2 separate regions of the Homo sapiens genome follow, and region 2 is linked to region 1. Evidence: fine-mapped expression QTL. Tissue or cell type: skeletal muscle. Region 1 holds a variant in brackets; the other region holds the start of a gene. All regions are shown on one strand. Distances are from middle to middle.

Region 1 (8,108 bases):
CCCCCAAATTTAGCAGTTTAAAAATAAGCATCTTACACAGTTTCTGAGGGTCAGTCATCTGGGAGTGGCTTAGCTGGTGGTCCAGGCCCAAGGTCCCTCCTGAGGCTGCAGTTACCTGCAGGCCAGGAGGATCCACTTCCAAGCTTACTCATGTGGCTGTTGGCAGGGACCTTCCATTCCGCACCATGTGGGCCTCTCTTTACGAACCAAAATAGAAGTTGCAATGGCTCCTATAACCAACCTTGGGAGTGACATACCAACACTTCCTCCATGTTCTGTTGTTCAGAGACTAACCCTGGTACAATGGGTGTGGGTCTGGGGGACTTCACAGGGTGTGTGAGTTGGAGGCAGGAGGCTGGCCACCACAGCCATCTAATAAACCTCTAAAAATTAACATGGCCCAAGCTCAAATTCATCACTCGCAGCAGCCCCACAACTTGCTCTTCCCTGTCTTCTCCATCGTAGTAAATGACAGCATCATTCACTCAGGTCCCAAACCTTCAAGTCATCCTTGACTCTCAGACCCTCACTGAATCCATTTGTAAATTCTGCACATTCTGCCTTCAAGATCTGTATCAAATCTGATCCCTTTTACCCTCCATGGCTACCACACCAGTCCAGAGTGCTCTCACCTCCCCTCGTCTCACTAGTTTCACTACTTCCACCCCAGCCTCTGCAGTGTATTTTCCACACAGTGGCCAATGGGATTTTTTTTTTTTTTTGAGACAGAGTCTCACTCTGTTGCCCAGGCTGGAGTGCAATGGCATGATCTTGGCTCACTGCAACCTCCACCTTCCAGGTTCAAGCAATTCTCCTGCCTTAGCCTCCAGAGTAGCTGGGACTACAGGCGTGCACCACCATGCCCAGCTAATTTTTTTTTTTAACTTTTAATAGAGACGGGGTTTCACCTTGTTGGCCAGGCTGGTCTCGAACTCCTGACCTCATGTGATCCGCCCGCCTCGGCCTCCCAAAGTGCTGGGATTACAGGCACGAGCCACTGCGCCCAGCCCCAAAGAGATTTTTAAATGTCACATCATGACATTCCCTGGTTCAAACTCTCCAATGGCTTCCCTTCTTAATCAAGAAAACAAATCTCAACTCCTACAGCTTTACACATCTGGCCCTTGCACGTGTGCAACTTTCTTTCCTGCCCCTCTTCCCCTCACTCCCCTTCAGCCACAGTGGCCTTCCTTCTGTGCTTCCCACGTGCCGGGTACACTCCTGCCTCAGGCTTTTCATTGGCCAATCCCTGTCTGCAGTCTTCTCCTAGTCATCTATATACAGGACTGCTTCCTCACTTCAGTCTCTGCCCAAGTGTCACTGCCTCGTAAGCCCCTCCCTTATCAAACCTCCTAGAAGACAGACTCCCTTCCTAGACCCACTGCTGACACTTGGTGTCCCACACTGTGAGCTTCCTGAGCACCAGGTCTTCCACGTTCTAGTCACTGCTGTCTCCCTGATGCCTAGAACAGTACCTGGCACATAGCAGGTACTCAATAAACATTTGCTGGACTAATGAATGAAATATAAACATAAATGCTTAGGGTTTTAAAATACCCCAACTTGAAGAAAAATCTGAATTATTACAGTGGTATAGGAATGTATGGGGGTAGGAGGGCCCTGGAGAGGCCATTTCACAAGCATGTGCACCTCTTAGGAGCACGGTCTCAGGCACACAGGTGGATTAAAAAACACATTGCAGTTGTAATTGCCACCTTTCTTCTAAGGAGCAGACAGTTTAGCTCAAGATATACGACAGCTGTATACTTTCTTAGCATCTCCTCTCCTGCCAGAGTGTGGCCTTTCTAAAACCCACCATGTCACTCCCCTGCACAAAACCCTTCAGTGACTCACTACCGCCCCAAAGGCAAAGCCCTAACTTGTAGCTGCGGCTTCCCCCGAACTTCTTGGTCTTGCCTTAGTTCACCTCACCATCTTCATTTCTTGCCCCTTCCCACTCTAGATACCACACTTCAGCCAAATAGAAATGTTGGCTGCCCCCCAAATAGACATTTTCCCTTATTTCTGGGATTTTGCCCATTCCGTTCCTCTGCTTGTAATACGCTTTCTGCCCCCTCCTGTCAGTTACCTTTTGCCCCAACTCTCACCCTAGAGTGGCCTTCTTCACAGTGGCTTCAAGGCTCCTGGCAAGAAGGGAGGGCAAGCCCCAATGTGCAAGGACTTGTCAAGTCTCTGTCTGTTGACCAAAGAAAGACATGGCCGAGACCAGATTGAAGAGGTGGAGAAATAAAGCACTTCACAATGAAAATCATGATTTCATTGCACACAGGGCTGGAGGAATGCCTGGTTCTCTGCAAGCCATTTCCCATACGCCCCCCATGCTTTCCCCAGTGCCTACTCAGCTTCTGGTCTCAATCCCAAAATCACACCCTCTGGGGTAATTTTCCTGATCCTCAAAGCCTGGGTGAAGAAACTCCTACAACACTTTATGACATTGCTGCATTTATTACTCCGTACTGCCAATGAATACATGAATGTAGGATTACATTCAATTATTTGTAGGATAAATGCAGGCCCTCCGATCCACACAGCAGAGTTGACTATACTCAACATTTTGTGGCAACGTGGTGTCAGTTTTCCCTGTAAGGGAGTGTGTTTTGGTTTCTGTTTTATCTTCATTGCTTGTACTGTACCTGACACAAAGTGGGTACTTAAATATATCTGTGAAATAAATACATAACTATCATAAAAATAAAATGGAGTACTTTAAAAAGGCACAAAGAATGTTCTTGAGACCACTGCCTTGTTAGGCTCAGCAGGCTGCAAACATTAGAGCTGAGACAGCACAAAACCACATGAAATTAGACTGAAATGCCTCAGCGGGAGAAAATGAAAGAAAACGCCACAGAAAGCGACACTTTCCTTTTATTAGATTCACAATGCCTTTGTAACGCCCAACCTCTCCTTTGTAGAATTTTTCTTTGTTAGAAAACAGACAAACTCTGTCCTTAGGAACCGTCTTCTACTTGGTACAGCACTGGCCTCAGGCCGCCTGCATCTGCGTGGACCAGTAAGAATGAAGTCCAGCAGCATAGAGAAAAGCATCATAAAGGCTGGGAGGTCATCCCCCAGGGCCTCCCCTACTTCACATACACAGAGACGTGTGCATATGTCACACACACACACATATTATATATAGATATGTATTTTTTTTTTTTTTTACAAAAATAACAGGGTTTGCACAGCTCTATTAATTTTTTAAAATTACACAGGCAAGGTTTATGCTTCAGTATAACCATTTTTACTTTGGATTTAAGTGGGAATTTTAGGCCTAAAAATAAGATTACCAAGCAGAGGCCATCTAGCCACACAGACACAAGACATCTTGAGCTCCATGAAACTAGAAATGTGGTGATGTCATCCTCACACGGGGGGGCTACACATCCCCATCGATTATTTTAACTAAAATACAAAAGCAAAATAGTGTGTTAAAATAATCCTCTACTCAATGCATTAGCACATATACCAAATTATACTATCTGCATGACAGTCTCTAGGTACCAAGACTGTATTTTTGCAAGTGCTATTCTCTACTTCATTAAATACAGTACCCAGCCAGCAACCACAAAAAGAGAACGCATGCTGTACAGCAAGAGAAGGGGAGGGAGACGATTTTCAGGGCCATAACTTCCATGGCAACCAAAAGAAAAATAAGTAAGACAAATCTCACATGACAGATATAAAACTAATTTGCAGTGACATTTGATATATAGTTTTATCAGAAGTAATACATTTAGGTTACAGTTACATGAAAAAGAGAAACTATGTGAAATTATAGGCTTTCTCCTAGAATATCCAAAATGCTCATCAACAGTTAATTAGTACAAGAAAGATGACCACCAGGTGATTGAATAGACAGAATGTCATGTAGTATTTTAAAAACACAGATTCTGGGACTAGAAGCTACCACCAAAATATCCAGAAATCTGAGTTAACAGGTCCTTTATTTTGCACACTTGCTGCTGATATATAGAACCACGAAGTGTTTGCACAGACCACGAATGCAGCCGCTAGCCTAGAGGCTGGTCACAGAAGAGAATGCGATGAACACCGTCCTGCCAGTGTGAGGACGGAGTGTCTGATGTGTTTGTGTCCCCCCACCACCCCCCCATATACAAAGGCCATCTCTAGGGCAGAAATCTCTCAACAGCTCAAGCCCATCCTCGCTGCCCCCTCCACGAAACGACACAGCTCAAGCTTGGTGCTGGGAAGTCTTTCC[G/C]ATGCTGGTTTGATTCCTGATCACCCAACTGGACAGGGCCCTCTCCAGGACCTCCCAGGTTCTCCCTGGTACCTTCCCTCCCTCAGGAGGAGGCAGCACTGTCTCTGAAGCCACCAACGAGTAATGCTAGAAGAATCAGAAGAAGGAAGTATCTGATGAAAAGGCACCTGCAAGTCTAAAGTCCTCTTTGGTGAGAACACTGTACATCCGCTGAGGCAGAGCTTTGGAGTAGGGAGCAGGGCGCGGCACAGTGGTGCGCAAAATGAATTCCCGGCCAGCAGGGGGTGGGAAGTCTGACACGGAGTTCTGCCTTCTTTCCTCTGGGGAGCCCATTCTCTTCAATTCCTCCTCTGGTGGAGTCATAGCTGCAGCCTGGAAAAGAATCAAATGCTAAAGTCAAAAGCAGGTCAAATGCTAAACTCAGATGCTTTTGAAGGACAGATGAATTAACATAATAAAGATATGAAAATGTCCCACGTTACTCAGTAATGCAGTCAGCTATATGTTAAGATTACTCAAAAACCACATAACACAGCAAATGCAAGAAGCTTGAGACACTGCATGAGCAGCCGGGCTGGAGACAGACAGGAGGGATGATGACTGCCAGGCAATCTGCTCTGAAGAGAGAAGGCCATATTTACACATCTGATGAAAAAGGACCTCGGAGCTGTGCTGCTTTCTATGTTTCTTCCAGCAATGACCCAAGTCTACGTCTGACAGCCTCAGTCCAGTAAGGAGCTGTTTTTCTCCAGAGTGAAAAGATGATTTTCATCTTGACTCTGGGTAAGAATTTTTTAATCGATTCTTTTTAAGGTTCACTTGCCAAATTAAAAGTGGGGGCATTGGTCTTGCTTGCTGGGCAGCTAATGTGATGCCGAAGTGATAGAGGCCCATATAGCAATGACCACAAAAGAGAAGTTCGCAATATTAAAGGCATCTATTTTTTCATTGAAATGACATAAAATGCATGTTCATTTACAGCCTACAATTTTAATTCTGATTACTGTACTTTTTTTAATACCATCAATTTGGGAAAAAAAATTGTTTTGGCAATGGAAACATGAAATCATGTTGCGCTAAACATCAGCAAGGTAGGTAAGCCAAATCCAGACTGTGAGAGAGGTGGTTAGTGTTAATGACCTTATGAAATTAGAGGGATGGGAAGGAACAAGGAACTATGAGGGGCAAAGGCTATTTTGTTACCTCATCAGAAGATTCAGTCAGCTTGAGAAGGGGTAAGAAAAGAAACAGTGATGAAAGGGAAACAAGCAAGATGGTTTAAATAGGGCTAGACAAGGGAGTTCAGGATTATTTCAAAGACAGTATGCACTACATTATGGAACATGATCCTATCAAAAGAATATTCAAGACAAAGTCACACCAAACACAGCACACCCAGCTGTCAACTACAGCAGACATCTACTACTACTCATGCATCCATGGCTCAACAGGTGACATATGATGTCATTTAATGGGAGAAATGAACAACAAAAACCTAGCTCTTTTACTGGGAATTATGATGCAAAAAAAAAAAAAAGTGTTCATGGCTTGAAAAATAGAATTTAGGAATAGGTGCCTAACAGTTATTCAATCTAGCAAGTCTGAAGCGAAATCCAGTCAGTCATTTATTTGCTGAATTCCATTTAAGTATGTACATACCAGAGATACCTATAATCATGATAAGGCTTATTACTATTTATAATTTTAAAGAAAAGTTATAAATATATAGAATTACTATAAGCTATAAAAACACCAAGTGAAATTACATCACAACTTTTTAAAAAAATGTGTTAAAATCTTGACTAATTAGTAAAATTGATATAAAGTATCAGCTAATGAAAAGTTACATGAATAAATTCTAACAGTTTACTTCAGCCAGACATTTAAAACTGAGTTTAAAAATGTACCAACCAGATGCTTGTTATATGTATTACACAGTCTACCAATTCCCTAAAAACATTCACTACAAGGTCTGAAAACTTTAAAATCTTTTCTTAAATGACATAATGTAGATGGATGTACAATTTCAGTAGCCATTAAGGGGGTTAGCTATACAATGAGGCTACTGAAAGATGATATACTATGTTCCTGTATTTAGTGATTTTGAAAGATATCTTAAGTATATTAAGTGGAAAACAAGAATAATGAAGTAATTATATAATATAACCCTACTTTTAAAATTATATATACATATGTATATACTAGATGTTAAATCATCAATGGGTAGTGAGATTATGTGATTAATATTTTCTTATAATTTTCTAGGCCAGGTGTGATAGCTCACACACACCTATAATCTCAGCACTTTGGGAGGTTAAGGAAGGAGAATTGCTTGAAACCAGGAGTTCTAGATAAGCCTGGGCAACAAAGTGAGACCCCGTCCCTACAAAAAATATAAAAATTAACTGGGCGTGGTGGTGCATGCCTGTGGCTCCAGCTTCTTGGGAGGTTGAAGCAAGAGGATTGCTTAAACCTAGGAGTTCAAGGCTGCAGTGAGTTATGATCTTGCCACTGTACTCCAGCCTGGACCACAGAGTGAGACCCTCTCTTTAAAAAATGAATAAATAAATATAAAAGTTCCTATATTGTCAAAGTTTTACTTGCAGTCAGTAGAGGGGGTAAGGAGGTTATTTCTATTTTGGGGAAAATAATTTTGCTTAGTTATCTAAAATAAGTAACAATCTCAGGACTAAAAATATAAATACTTCACATTTTAAATCCTCTTAACACATAACTTTTTTTTTTTTTTTGAGATGGAGTTTTATCACCCAGGCCGGAGTGCAGTGGCATGATCTCAGCTCACTGTAACCTCTGCCTCTCGGGTTCAAGTGATTCTCCTGCCTCAGCCTCCCAAGTAGCTGAGATTACAGGTGCTCACCACCACGCCCAGCTAATTTTTGTATTTTTAGTAGAGAAAGGGTTTCACCACATTGGCCAGGCTGGTCTTGAACTCCTGACCTCAGGTGATCCACCCACCTCAGCCTCCCAAAGTTACAGGCGTGAGCCACCGCACCCAGCCAACATGTCACTTATTAAAAATGATCAAAGAGGAAAGAATTTTTGCAATATGAGGAACATTCATATTGGTAGCTAACAAGGAAATGCGCTTGTAAGCTTCTGGGTAGTGAACTGGATAGATATTATCAGATGTGGAACCAAACTCGGTTCTTGTTTTCATGCCAGAGAGAAAAACAAAATAAATCAAAGCAAGCATCTATTGTTTGCTAGAAGTCTAATTTATAAGGAAATAAATATTTGGTTATTAATTTGAAATTCTGAGGTTTAGGGAGCTGCCCCATAAACAAACTCAGATTTTAGCTCTTGCTAAGAATTCCTATCAGTGTATTTGGCTATGAATTTGAATATATTAACTAGTTGTACTCCAGACCAACTCTACAGGGATTATCCAGTTGTTATTCCACGTGTAGACACATAGAAATTCTTTTTCTTATTTGTTTCTGAAAATTACACTCTCAAAACTGGGTCATTCTAGTGTAATCACAGTGCCATATAAGGGGAAGCGTGTAATTAGTGCACATAACGCCTTTATCAGAATCCCTAATATTAATGAGCCCTGAACTGAGAATTATCTGTAGGATGCCAGAGCCCTTAGCCAGTAACCAAGATACAATATAATTTTAAAATCTTTACTTTCACTACTAGAGGTAATGGTTATGATAATTTTTCAAACTGGGCTTTCTTTCTGTGCTGAAATCTGTTTCCACAGCCCTAAAAATCTGAAGTTTTCCTCTTCTTTTCTAGGAAACCTCAAAGGTAGATCTCCTCACCATTACAAGAACAATTATATTTATAATTCAAGCTGAGTTGTGACTCCACTTTGCCCTACATGGGGTTTAAAGATGGTAAA
Region 2 (8,108 bases), 120 kb after region 1:
CAGTGCTCTAGAAACAAGTTTACATGTTTACCAAAGAGGAAAAATTTAATATATCCACAGGCAAGCAAAAATTTGCATGAAATGTATACTATATTTACGAAGCTAAAAAAACTGGAAGTTACCTTAATGCCCAACTGCAGGAAATACTTGTAAATTAATCCACTCAGAGGACTAATATGCACCCAATAAAAATCATGTCAATCAAAAGAAAATATACAAAGGCCAGGCACAGCGGCTCACGCGTGTAATCCCAGCACTTTGGGAGCTGAGGCGGGTGGATCACGAGGTCAGGAGTTCAAGACCAGTTTGTCCAAGATGGTGAAACCCCGTCTCTACTGAAAATACAACAAAAATTAGCCAGGCGCGGTGGCAGGCACCTGTAATCCCAGCTACTCAGGAGGCTGATGCAGGAGAATTGGTTGAACCCAGGTGGCAGAGGTTGCAGTGAGCCAAGACTGCACCACTGCACCCCAGCCTGGGCAACAGAGTGAGACTCTGTCTCAAAATAAAAAAGAAAAGAAAAAGAAAAAGAAATATTAATATTTGATCCAAAAAAGTTTTTAACACACGTTAGAAGGAAATATGTCGGCCGGGCGTGGTGGCTCATGCCTGTAATCCCAGCACTTTGGGAGGCCGAGGCGGGCGGATCATGAGGTCAGGAGATCGAGACCATCCTGGCTAACACAGTGAAACCCCGCCACTACTAAAAATACAAAAAATTAGCCGGGCGTGGTGGCGGGCACCTGTAGTCCCAGCTACTTGGGAGGCTGAGGCAGGAGAATGGCGTAAACCTGGGAGGCAGAGCTTGCAGTGAGCCGAGATCGCGCCACTGCACTCCAGCCTGGGCGACAGAGCGAGACTCCGTCTCAAAAAAAGAAAAAAAAAGGAAATATGTCAAAAAATTAACAGCAGTTATTTCCTGGTGTTAAGTTTACAGGTGATTTTTATTTTTTATTCTACTATAAGGTATTACTATTATAGTGAAAACTATTTAAAATATAGTTTTTACAGTAAAAGAAGAAATGTCTTTTTTTTTTTTTTTTTGAGACAGGGTCTCAACTCTGTCACCCAGGCTGGAATGCAGTGGTGTAATCACAGCTCACTGCAGTTCTGTCCTCCAGGACTCAAGCAATCCTCCCATCTCAGCCTCCTGACTAGCTGGGACTACAGGTGCACATCACCATGCCCAGCTAGCTTTTGTATTTTTAGTAGAGACAAGGTTTCGCCATGCTGCCCCAGCTCCTCTTGAACTCCTGAGCTCAAGTGATCTGCCTGCCTCAGCCTCTCTAAGTGCTGGGATTACAGGCATGAGCCACCATGCCCGGCCAGGAATGTCTTAAAATACTTATTGTATGAATAATGAATTCTATCAGTACTAGCTAAGAGACTTGGACTTTATCCTACAAGTATTGAGATTTGACTAGAAAAACTAAGTAATTTTTTCCTTAAAAGCTCTCAGGAAATGAAGGGTCATTTCCTGATTCCTTATTCTATATTAGGTCCCTCTGTTATAGGCTCTTATAAGACCAGGTTTCTTTCCCTTTCTAGCTCTTACATAAACTCATAATTACAGACTTGTATTACTTGATTTGTGTCTGTAATGCACTAGACTGCACATTTAGTAAAAGCAGAAACCGTACCTGTTTTACTAACCACCACATCCCTAAATCCGTAATGTGCACTGTGCTTGACATATGGGGATTCAATAAATATTGTCAATGAACAAATGATAAAAAGAGTTATGGGCTTCTATACAGTTCTCTCAATAAATTATCTATATAGTTCATAACATATTGTACTCACAAGATCTTTCATTTAAAATTAAACTCAAGGTTTGAGACTTCAAAGTCTTAACATTTTCTCTCATGAATTGTAAAATGCACACTACAGTGTAAAAGCCAAAAACCAAATTTTCTACTTTGCAATAGTTCTTATAACGGTGTTAATAATTATTTCCATATGCAAAGCTAAAGGACTTAATATTCCACTTCAGGATATTTTTAACTAGGGGAAAGTGATCATTTTTCCATTCAAAACTGATGTTTCCCTACCCCACCCTCCAAGATTTGAATTACATTTTTCTAACTACCTTCAAGACATCAAATTATTTCAAAATCAACAGGTTCAAATCTTCTCACTTTGACACTTCCTTACATTCATTCTTACAGGCAAAAAACTACAGTTCACATTTGATTTTTCCCACTTTTAACGTATCATCAAGTTTATTACCTAAATCTTCTCTGAAATATGTTACAATCCTCCCTTCTAGGTTCCCTTTGTATTCCAGTCCACAAATCACCATCCTAATTATGAATCAAGTTAAGTCTCCCACCATTATTCTACATCATGTCCTAAAACCACTTTCATCATATCACCTGGCCACTCTAAAACGAAGGGTCTCTCACTATTGTCTTAAGCAGTGGTTCTTTCTAAGTGTGGTCTCCTGACCAGCAGCATCTGAATTACCTGAGACCGTGTTACACAAGCAAAATTTTCAGTCCCACCTCAGACCTACAGAATCAGAAACTCTGAGGATGGGGCCCAGCAATCTAAGACTCTGATGTACATTAAAGTATGAGAATCACTGGTCATAGGAATACTGAATCTGGATTCCTGTATTTAGTTTGGGAAGATGTCCATAACCCAATCCCGTCTTCCTTGTTAACCTTATTTATTTCCCTTCAATAGACAGTCTTCACTCTAGTGAAGATATATTTCTTCATTCAGTCCCTTCAAAGATTCATTCTCACCTATGTCTCTACCCATGTCAGTCCATTCTCATGTTTAACCAACCACTTCCCACTTTCAAGGCCCAGCTCATTTCCTATCTTTTCTATGAAAATATCTCCAACTATTGTAGTCCACAATATCACCCCTATTTAAATAATAATTATTTTAATTATTATTTTTACAGGTAGTACCAACTGGCTTACATTTTAACTATTTGCTGTTTGTTGTTTTTTAAAAATATATGGGTCAAGTTTCTGCTTTTCCCTTTGTATATAGCTCTGGACACCCAGTACCTACTCAATGAAGTCTTGCCAGTGTGGTTATGTCTTACTGACACTTTTATGAAGGGTACCACAGGTCTAACTATTATTCCAACAAGGACCTTTTATATTTTCCTGTGCCACCTAATGACACGACATCCACAAATTTCCTCTCCCAACCAGAAAGATTATAAAATGCTGTAACAGCGTAAACACTGACTTCAACACCCAGGAAACTGAAGGGTTTCTGTGACACTTAACAGAAACCTTCTCGATCTAAGCTATCACTCCTCCACAAACTTGGCTTTCAACTAATTTCAGTAATAGAACAGTTTCACCCAGACAGCTGTTCATCTGAATTTGACAGGCACAGGAAGCCTGGGCACAGTACCCACTTTAATGTAACAACTTAAATCAAAGCATTCCAAAACCATATGCAGACTTTTTAAAAAGGTTATTCTAAAAGACAGGATGGGCGGAGGCTCACGCCTGTAATCTCAGCACTTTGGGCGGCCCAGGCTTGAGCCCAGGAGTTCAAGACTAGCCTGGGCAACACAGCGAGATCTTTAAAAAATTAGTTGGGCGTAATAGCGCGTGCCTGTGGTCCCAGCTCCTCCCGAGGCTAAAGCGGGAGCTTCACTTGAGCCTAGGAGTTCGAGGCCGCAGTAAGCTATGACCTCGCCACTGCACTCCGGCCTGGGCGGACAGACTGAGACTCTGTCTCCAAAAATAAATAAAAATAAAAAATTAAAGACAGCATGGAGATGGTGGGAGTGTGACAGATGGACAACTACCAATACTCTGAAGAAAGACTTCCTCCTGAAAAGGGTATACCAACGTACACGGGATGAGGTGCGGCACAACCTACCAAGTTTACTGCTTACGATAATGAGTTAAACGGTAATGAAAACCGGAACGGTTGTTGCAGCCTCGGAAATTTTTCTTGCGAGTGGGTAACAACCAGAAAACCAAAGTCTAAGGGAAGCGGTCTGACAGGAGAGAAAACAAAACTTTCTGAGAGCCTGAGCCTCAGGGATTGGCTGACGGGGGCGGGCCGGGTGTTGCCAGACGCGAGACGCGGAAGAGGCTTGCGGTTGACCAAAGAAGACTGGGGGAGGAGACCCGGGACCCACGGTATTACCGTTCCCGCACAAGTGGCGTCACTTGTGGTGTGTCTGGGGTCAGGGAAGCGGCTAGGGGACGCCAGGGCCCATGGGAGCTGGTAACCAAAAATGCGATTCACTCACCTTTCCCATTCCGAGGCAGTGGTGAAGTCCGTGATCTCAAATACCTCGGATTCGGGCTGCGGGAAGGGGAAGGAGAGAAAAAGAAATTAAGCCCCAAGGCGAAGACATGAGGAACGAATTTAGATAGTGACAAGGATTAAGTAGGGAGCAAAGAAATCACCTCACTGTCGGCAGCCATCTTGAGGAGCGCCGGGCCTGGCGCTAAGGCTGCCGGGAAGAAGAGCGAAAGAGAACGGGGCGCGTCCCCGCCCCCGGAGCCCCCGCCCCCTGTTCATGAGTCTTGCCCTAGTAAGTAGGAGTGCTGCTTCTTCGCCCAGGTCTGTTAAGTCTTTAGTCCGCCCTCAGCTGGTTAATAAAACTCCGCTCTAGCTGGTTTCATAAAACTTGAAAATTTCCTGTGATGAATACAGAAAGGGAACAGAAGCCAAGGTGATAGGACAAGACCCTAAACTCATGTGGATAAGATTGTATTAAAAAACCTAAAGCATGTTGGGTTTGTTTTCATTCAACCCATATTTGTAGTTAGTACCAATTAGCTTACACTTTAACTATTGGGTTTCTTTTCATTCACCCTCTATTTATTGATTGTAAGGCAATAAACTAGGTGCTGTAATACCACTTCTACCCTCTGCCCCTGACCCTGCAAGAAGTTGCTCAGTTGATTGTCCTGAAATAAAATCATACTAGTTACCTGGTTTCTGGGAAGAGCAACATGGTGTTCAACAAACGCTTCATTTTTTTTTTTTTTTTTTTTTTTTTTTTTTTTTTTTTGAGACGGAGTCTTGCTCTGTCGCCCAGGCTGGAGTGCAGTGGCACGATCTTGGCTCACTGCAAGCTCCGCCTCCCGGGTTCACGCCATTCTCCTGCCTCAGCCTCCCGAGTAGCCGGGACCACAGGCGCTCGCCACCACGCCCGGCTAATTTTTTGTATTTTTAGTAGAGATGAGGTTTCATCGTGTTAGCCAGGATGGTCTCGATCTCCTGACCTCATGATCTGCCCACCTCGGTTCTGTCGCCAGGCTGGAGTGCAGTGGCGCGATTTCGGCTCACTGCAATCTCTGCCTCCTGGGTTCAAGTGATTCTCATGCCTCAGCCTCCCGAGTAGCTGGGATTACAGGCATGCGCCACAACACCCAGCTAATTTTTGTATTTTTGGTAGAGATGGGGTTTCACCATGTTGGCCAGGATGGTCCCGATCTCCTGACCTTGTGATCCGCCCCCCTCGGCCTCCCAAAGTGCTGGGATTACAGGTGTGAGCCACTGTGCCTGGCCTTGTCTTTATTTTAACACCTTCAAGTTATTTATATATATTCTGCATCTGAGCTTTATATTGTTTATATATGTAGCAAATACCTTCTCCCACTCTGCAGCTTGCTTTTTCACTATTTTTTTTTCAGACTGGTGCTCTAAAAAAGCAGACACTACAATTCCAAGCTGGCGAAGTCTCTGAAGTCCAACTGGAAGTGCTAGGGCAAAAATTATGCATCAGGAAATGCGTAGCCCCTTGTACTACTGCCTTGCTCCGTCAATCATTGGCCAGGATCTCCCCAAGAAAACAGTGGCCTTGGCTATCACTGTTTGCTCAGTTTTTGGCTGGAGGAAGCACTCCAAGAATAGCAGGTCCTTGGCTCAACAGTTAGACAAACCTGATAAACCCAACAGCCGTAGGCTGTTCATCTAACCACACGCCTTACAGCTGGGCAGTGAGTCTTTCTTTAAGGGAGGTCTGAGCAGCACATCTTTTGTGTCTGCCACTCTCTTTTAATAGACAGCCTCTTTTAACATGCACCTACAATGTTTTCGACATCCTGTGCTTTCTCTTTCCTCTGGACATGCTGTCGTTTAGAATCTGCAATGTCCTTGTGTCTATAGTTTACCTGGTAAAATTTGTCCTTCAAGTTTCAGCTTGGATATTTGCTCTTCTGTGAAGACTTTCTCTGCCCCCTGTTAGGAGCTTATTTGTATTTGCAACCAGTTTGGTGGTAATCGATTGGATTCTCACTCAAAATTCATATGTTGAAGCCCTAACTCCTAGTACCTCAAAATGTGACTGTATTTATGGACAGGGTGTTTAAAGAGGTGATTAAGTTAAAATTAGGCCGCTAGAGTGGGCCCTAATCCAATCTGACTAGTGTCCTTATGAGAAGAGATTAGGACACCAGGGATGTGCACACACAGAGGAAAGGCCATGTGGGGACACAGAGAGTAGGTGGCCACCTGCAAACCAAGGAGAGAGGCCTCAGGAGAAACCCAACCTGCTGATACCTTGGTCGTGGGCTTCTAGTCTTCAGAGCTGTGAGCAAATAAAAAAATATTTTTTTGAGATGGAGTCTTGCTCTGTCACCCAGGCTGGAATGCAGTGGTGAGATCTTGGCTCACTGCAACGTTCACCTGCCAGATTCAAGCAATTTTCCAGCCTCAGCCTTCTGAGTAGCTGGGATTACAGGCATGTGCCACCACATCCAGCTAATTTTTGTATTTTTAGTAGAGACAGCATTTCACCTTATTGGCCAGACTGGTCTCAAACTCCTGACCTCAGGTGATCAACCCTCCTCGGCCTCCCAGAGTGCTGGGATTACAGGTGTGAACCACGGCGCCCAGCCCTGTGAGCAAATAAATTTTTGTTGTTTAAGCCTTCCAGTCTGTGGCATTTTGTTCAAGCAGCCCTAGGCAAACATACATCCCCCACCCTCAACCCAGGAAGTCAGACACTCCCCTTCCATGCTTCCTTAGAGCTTTTGACACAGCCCTAGGGCAGCCTGATATTGTCCTTGTTTTGTATGCCTATCCCTCCACTATTTCTAAACATTGAGTTTCTTGAAAAAGAGAATGGTTTGAATGACTCTATCTCAAAATGAGAGACAAAAGGAGGATTCCTTTTTTGTTTAAAGACAGGATGTCTTTCTGTTTCCCAGGCTGGAGTGAAGTGGCATGATCATAGCTCACTGCAGCCTCAAACTCTTGGACTCAACCAATCCTCCTGCCTCAGACTCCTGAGTAGCTGAAACTACAGGTGCCCACCACCACGTCCAGCAATTTTTTCTATTTTTTGCAGAGACATGGTCTCACTATGTTGCTCAGGCTGGTCTCAAACAACTAAGCTCAAGCAATCCTCCTACCTTGGCCTCCCAAAGTGCTGGGATTACAGGCGTGAGCCACTGCGCATAGCCAGAAGATTACATTTTTTGGGGGGGGTGGGAACGGAGTCTTGCTCACTCTGTCACCCAGGCTGGAGTGCAGTGGCACAATCCCGACTCACTGTAACCTCCGCCTCCTGGGTTCAAAGCAATTCTGCCTCAGCCTCCCGAGTAGCTGGGATTACAGGCACTAGCCACCACACCCGGCTAATTTTTTTTTTTGAGATGGAGTCTTGCTCAGTCGCCCAGGCTGGAGTGCAGTGGTGCGATCTCGGCTCACTGCAAGCTCCGCCTCCCAGGTTCACGCCATTATCCTGACTCAGCCTCCCGAGTAGCTGGGACTACAGGCGCCTGCCACCACACCCGGTTATTTTTTTTGTATTTTCAGTAGAGACGGGGTTTCACCGTGTTAGCCAAGATGGTCTCGAACTCCTGACCTCGTGATCCACCCACCTCAGCCTCCCAAAGTGCTGGGATTACAGGTGTGAGCCACCACGCCTGGCCTAATTTTTTTATTTTTGGTAGAGATGGGGTTTCACCATGTTGGCCAGGCTGGTCTGGAACTCCTGACCTAAGGTGATCCACCCACCTCAACCTCCCAGAGTGCTAGGATTACAGGTGTGAGCCACCACATCTGGCCAGGATTACTTTTTGAGAAGCCAATTTAAAGATTCATGGATTGCAGACAAGCTGGAACCCTAGGATAACCTGGCAGAAATCCTAAAAGTCAGAAAC

Alleles and levels. Positions count from the first base shown, and alleles are read on the strand shown. Sizes are in standard deviations (SD) of each study's normalised expression.
As copies of G replace C in region 1, the expression in skeletal muscle of the gene that starts at base 4,431 in region 2 goes up (moderate effect, 0.69 SD a copy in GTEx).

What was found. PIP is the estimated chance that this variant, and not a neighbour inherited with it, causes the effect.
Region 2: it holds the start of RAB3GAP1, and the variant in region 1 is fine-mapped to the expression of RAB3GAP1 in skeletal muscle (GTEx, PIP 0.93).

What each region holds. Positions count from the first base shown.
Region 1 is chr2:135,165,049-135,173,156 of GRCh38, reverse strand. It overlaps RAB3GAP1 (RAB3 GTPase activating protein catalytic subunit 1), which reads right to left. Exons shown (of 24, transcript NM_012233.3): 24 at 2,447-4,612. The coding sequence ends at 4,376. Among named protein-coding and RNA genes, the nearest start is that of SNORA40B, 32 kb to the right of the region's middle. The variant G/C (reference allele first, on the strand shown) is at 4,241.
Region 2 is chr2:135,048,615-135,056,722 of GRCh38, reverse strand. RAB3GAP1 (RAB3 GTPase activating protein catalytic subunit 1) reads right to left here and starts at 4,431. Exons shown (of 24, transcript NM_012233.3): 1 at 4,398-4,431; 2 at 4,238-4,293. The coding sequence starts at 4,415. RefSeq lists an enhancer at 3,719-3,858.